2 separate regions of the Homo sapiens genome follow, and region 2 is linked to region 1. The links come from fine-mapping of genetic effects on gene expression. A gene starts in region 1. The other region holds a variant in brackets. All regions are shown on one strand. Distances are between the middles of the regions. Region 1 holds the start of THEM4 (thioesterase superfamily member 4). Region 2 overlaps THEM4 (thioesterase superfamily member 4).

What was found.
Region 2: its variant is fine-mapped to the expression of THEM4 in whole blood (TOPMed, PIP above 0.99).

The regions. Positions count from the first base shown.
Region 1 is chr1:151,908,400-151,911,318 of GRCh38, forward strand. It overlaps THEM4 (thioesterase superfamily member 4), which reads right to left and starts at 1,112. Exons shown (of 6, transcript NM_053055.5): 1 at 961-1,112. The coding sequence starts at 1,059. RefSeq lists a silencer at 839-1,148 and enhancers at 1,389-1,508, 1,497-2,084.
Region 2 is chr1:151,885,227-151,888,145 of GRCh38, forward strand. The region is part of intron 4 of THEM4 (thioesterase superfamily member 4); the gene reads right to left. Among named protein-coding and RNA genes, the nearest start is that of THEM4, 23 kb to the right of the region's middle. The variant T/C (reference allele first, on the strand shown) is at 1,464.

The DNA.
Region 1 (2,919 bases):
GGCCCAGATTCATCCTGGCTTAGGGAATGAGTCCTTTCTGGTTTGGTATCTGTATGCCCTTTCGCTATTTGTCGATTCCCCTGCCCTCCACCAACCACCTTGGATTTTCCTTTCTCTGAGCCTTTAAGTAAAGTTTGAAAGCCAGAAATATTGGCCGCTTGGTGGAGCTAAAGTTAGATAATAAGGGTGTTAAAAGAATTTTCTTAAGGAGTGCTCAGCTTAATTAAAAGTAGATATCTAAGTTGTAATTATATTTATAAGGCCTTTATGTTTTCCTTTTCTTGGACCTTATTTTGCTGGAAAAAGTGTTTCTTTGCGGTCGACTGAGTTATTTTTCTCCATTTTGCCTTGCCACTTTTAATGCCTGCATAAGAGGGGCGATCTCTGTTTTCCTCATGGAACCCCAGGAATTAAAAGCAGATAGATCCCTCTCCCTGTGATGAAAGATCTTATGGCAACTGGGTTTTCTTCTGCCTGTCTGTGTAGTTATATATGTGTTGTGTGTGATGTCTATAAAAAGATCTCTAATTAATTGACCTAAAGGAAGATAAGCGTTTGGATCAAATATTTTTTTAAAGGGAAGATAAAAGCTGTGGTATCTTTTAGTTCACGTCACTTTAATCTTTGAAAAATAAAAACAGCCTCAAATATTATTGGTAAAATACAGATGTTGTCAAAATATAAATAGACAGACTAAATTATGCAGTTCAGGTAGCGCCCTGCCGACCCTGTCTCTTAAAAAACAAAAAAACGGGGTCACCTTTCCATCCCTTTTCTAACGGTTTGAATCTCAGGACTGTATTCCTAGGCCCCTGTTGCTTATGCTGCCCTGTGGTGCCCAGGTGAGCTTTTATTCTGAGATTGGCTGGTTGGGGTATGGATAACAATCGAAGGCTCTGTTACCGCAGGCGTGTTTCTGAGTCCTGCTCCCGCCCCATGCCCGAGGGTGCCCAGACTCACCAGCTCGGGTCGCGGCTCGCTTCCCGGCAGGCGCCGGCCTACTGGCGGCAGGCACAGAGCCCCCAGCGTGCGGAGGCGCGCGGCGCAGCTCCTCAGCATGGCTCCGGGCCGCGGGGCCGCGCTTGCTCTAGCCCTGGACGGCGCACTCTACCTCCGCCACAAGAGCGCGCGTGCGAGTTAACCCCTGGGGTGGACGCAGGGCGGGGCTTGGGGAGGAGGCGGTGCGCACTACTGGCGGCTGGCTGGCCGGGGTGTGAGGCCGGCGGGGTCCGGGTAGGGCATCGCTGTTGAGTCTATCTTCTGGTTCCGGCCTTTTCTTTCCGAAGACCTCCCGCTGCGGCCAACAGCCGGGCCACTTCCGGGGCTTCTCAAAGGCAAGAGGAGCGCGGCCGGAGCGGATCCCGGTTATCGCCTTGGGCCCCTCAGCCCCTCAGCCCCGGAACCCGCGCGCCGACTGGAGGCTTTGCGGTCATCCTTCCCACATGACCCAGGGCGTACGCAGTGCTCCGTGTCCCCAAGTAGTTATCCCTCCCCCGGAAGACTGAAGTCCCTGGGGCGGGTAGGAGCGCACGCTAGGAGTAGTATGAATAAAGTGTTTTCTTGGAGGTCATGGGCAAGTCTCTGGACAGGGTTGATAGTGCTGATTTATAGAGGGCAGTCTGGGCACAAAGAGCATTTATACGATCGAAAAGCTGCTTTCCCTGCCAACAGCCCCATACCCTCCCCAGGAGCGCGCTTACGCCTTAAAAGACTCTTTTGTTATGTAAACTGACAGTTAAATTAAACGAAGGTAATGGATACTAAAGGCGTAACAGGTATTGTAACTATTTTACTGTTATCGATGCTTTTGAGGTTACTTACCTCGCTTGTATTCGTATGGTGGGAATACTAGGCGCATACCTTCTGAGCTTCGAATTCAGTAACCTCACTGGGACCTTGAAATCGGACTGGGTTGGAGTATTCCCATTACTCAGATAATGCAAATCCGGGCCATCATACCCCTTTATTTTTAAATGCTTACCAGTATGCCATAGCCCTAGTCCATCCTAAGGTGAAGACTCTAATGGGTTTTTTTTGAGACAGAGTCTCGCAGAGATACTGCTATTGCACTTCAGCCTGGGCAACATACTGATGCCCCATCTCAAAAAAGCAATAAATTAAAAAGAAAACTCGAATGACCTGAATGCATTAGATATTTTGCCTTGATTCCTTTCCCATGAACAACTCCAGCAGTTTGTCAGTAGGTAAGAACACCTAGATACATTTTAAGCCTACACTATTAACTGGGGGAAGGTGTAACATTCTGAGAGAAAGGGAATTGGGGAGAGAAGGCAATGCAGTTAGGAGGGGCCCCTTGGAATCCTAGAGCTACTGAACCGAAGATCAGGCATAAAGGATGGTTGTTGAGATTCTGTAATTCTAAGAGGTTGTATTCTGATATCTCCTAAGCACCCCCCCCAACCTCCCACATTCCCTTTATCTCAGTTGTCTTCCTTTTTAATATATTAATAGTATTGCAGTTTCCTGGTGGCAGGGATGGGGTCAGATTGCCTTATTAATTGTAACAACGTGCACGTAGTGCTTGAATACTTACTTAGCAGCAAGAATCCAAAGTATCTTTGGTGTCTGTTGTCTTCCCATGTTGTGCGTGCAGATGGAGGCACGAGCATAACGTAAATCTCTAAAATTGAGATGACTACTGTTAATGAATAGAAAAGTTTATTCAGGTAACTTAAAATTGCATCTATTTACAATTTACAGTGTAGTCAAATCAATCAATACCTATAGACTTCAACCCTGCTAAGATTGTCTATATGATTAATGTACCAATAGCTCACCTAACAGCTTCCTTTTGTTTTTTTGAGATGGAGTCTCACTCTGTTGCCCAGGCTGGAAGTGCAGTGGCATGATCTTGGCTCACTGCAACCTCTGCCTCCAGGGTTCAAGCGATTCTCCCTG
Region 2 (2,919 bases), 23 kb before region 1:
TTCTGCCTCAGCCCCCCAAATAGCTGGGATTACAGGCACGTGCCACCACACCTGGGTAATTTCTGTATTTTTAGTAAAGTCAGGGTTTTGCCATGTTGACCAGGGTGGTCTTGAACTCCTGACCTCAGGTGATCCACCCGCCTTGGCCTCCCAAAGTGCTGGGATTACAGGCGTGAGCCACTGTGCCCAGCCTCATCTTTTATTTCTTTAAACATCTCATACTTTATTCATTTATATTGTGTATTTGATTATCATCATATCTTAGATCCCTGAGGTCTAAATCTTATTTATTGTTTCTGTTGATAGTCACCCTTGGTAGTTTCTTTCCTTGTGTATTTGGTACAGGATCTACTTGTTTTGAAGGAGGAATGTCCTTTAGCATTTCTTGTTTGCCATGTTGCATGAAGAAATCGAATCAGGAGCTTCTCAACTCATGTGTCATGAATGGGTCATTGGCATGCTGAGATATTTACCCTTTCAGCTGGCTTGTCATCACTAGTTTGACCTGCTTTGTCTATTTATCTTAATGTGCTAGGCACAAGGAAATAAATCAAGTGGGATATTTGGATCAGAGGGCTGGAAATTATTTGAAATCATTAAGGAATAATCTTGCTTCTTAAAGGAAGTAAGGTAGATTAAGGCATCTGATGATTAATTGACACTGCAAATTATTTTCAATTAAAATATAATCCCAGGTTGTTACCTGTAGCATCTTGAAGGACTGTCAAGTAATCATATTAAATTTAATATTATTACTATTATTATGAACCTAAATAACTGTATACAAAAAAACAGAGAGTGATAAATATTAAATTCTAAACTACTTATAAAATCCAATACTTTATTCTGGTCTTTAGTCATCAACTAACAGAAGACAATGGAGGCTGTGTGTTGTAGTGAAGAGCATCAGATTTGGTGTCATAAGATGTGAGTTCTAATTCTGACTAAATTGCTCTCTATCCATATGACTTCAGGTAAAACTTCTTTTCAGTATGTTTTCCAATTGTGGGGAACAAATGAACAGCAATGCAACTGATTTTTGTGGATGGTTTATTGGGTGGGACAAACACTAAGCATAGAGTTTGGCAGGTTCTGTTTCCCATTTTGCATTTGAGTATGTGCTTAAGACACAAACACTTTTTGAGATAAACAGCAATCTAAATACTTTGTTTCAGCTTGTTTTCAAAGTAACCGTTTACATTTATTTTTTTAGGAACGATGTTATACTTCATTATTCAACTTTATTTGAACATGGAAAAATATTTTTAAAAACATGGGACATGGAAAAATATAAAAAATTTAATTTTTAATATATTCTTTAACATGTTAAGAAAACCCAGATTTCTAGAATCTAATTTATAGTTATAACTAATATGAAATATTGACCATCTGTAAATATGTCAACTTTCCCCAAATTAATCTCTAGAATCAATGTAATTGCTATTAAAATTGTTAAAAGGAGG[T/C]ACAATGACAATCTGGGTTTAAAGGTTAAAAATCTAAGGCACAACTAGGAATAGAAAGAAACTCTCTCAACATAATAAAGGCTATTTATGAAAACCCTACAACTAACATCATGCTGAATGGTAAAAGACTAAAACCTTTTCATTTAAGATCAGAAACAAGACAAGGATGCCCACTTTTGCCACTTCTATTCTACATGGTACTAGAAGTCCTAGCCAGAGCAATTAGGCAAGAAAAAGAAATCAAAGGTATTCAAATTGGAAAGGAAGAAGTACAAAGATCTGTTTACAAATGACATGACTTTGTATATAGAAAATCCTAAAGATTCCACAAAAACCTGTTAGAATGAATAAACAAATTCAGCAAAGCTGCAAGATGTAAAATCAACACAGAAAAAGCAGTTGCATTTCTATACACAAACAATGACTAATCCAAAAAGGAAATTAAGAAAACAATTAAGGCCAGGTGCAGTGACTCACATCTGTAATCCCAGCACTTTGGCAGGCCAAGGCAGGCGGATCACTTGAGGCCAGGAGTTTGAGATCAGCCTGGCCAACAAAGTGAAACACTGTCTCTACTGAAAATACAAAAAATTAGCCAGCTGTGGTGGTGCATGCCTGTAATACCAGCTACTTGGCAGGCTGAGGCATGAGAATAGCTTGAACCTGGGAAGTGGATGTTGCAATGAGCTGAGATCATGCCACCACACTCCAGCCTGAGCAATAAAGTGAGACTTTGTCTCAAAATAATAATAATAATAATAAAAAAATTAAAAATAAAAAAATCAAAAAGAATAAAATACATAGGAATAAACTTAACCAAAGAGCAAAAGTCTTATACACTGAAAACTACAAAACATTGATGAAAAAAATTAAAGACACAAATAAATGGAAAGACATCTGTGCCTGTGGACTGAAAAGACTCGGTGTTTTGTGTGTGTGTGTGTGTTTTTGTTGTTGTTGTTTTTTTTACAGTTGGGGTCTTGTTGCCCACCCTGGAGTGCAGTGGCATGATCCTAGCTCACTGTAGCCTTGAACTCCTGGGCTCAAGCAATCCTCTCAAGAAGCTAGGACTACAGACGTGCACTGCTGGGCCCAGCTAAATTTTTAAAAAATTAATTTTGTTATGTAGTAGATGTTGGTGCTCCACCCAGAGCCCCTTGGATCCTTTCTTCACTTGTTTTGGTTATTTTCTCTAGAGTCTGCTTTGCTCAAACACAGAGACCCTTAGAAGTACTTGGAAATTTATGGTCCCTGGGATGGCCCTGATCCTATGACCAATACATGCGAGAGTATAAAGACTCTAGCTCCCTCATCTGAGATGGAGACAATTCTGAGGCATAAATTTCATTCTAGAGCTCTCTTGTATGATCTGGCTAAAGCTATGCTTTGCTGGACTTTTGAGAGTTCAGCCTTGGTTGACACTTCTTCATCTTCCCCGTCCTGCTTCTCCCACTCC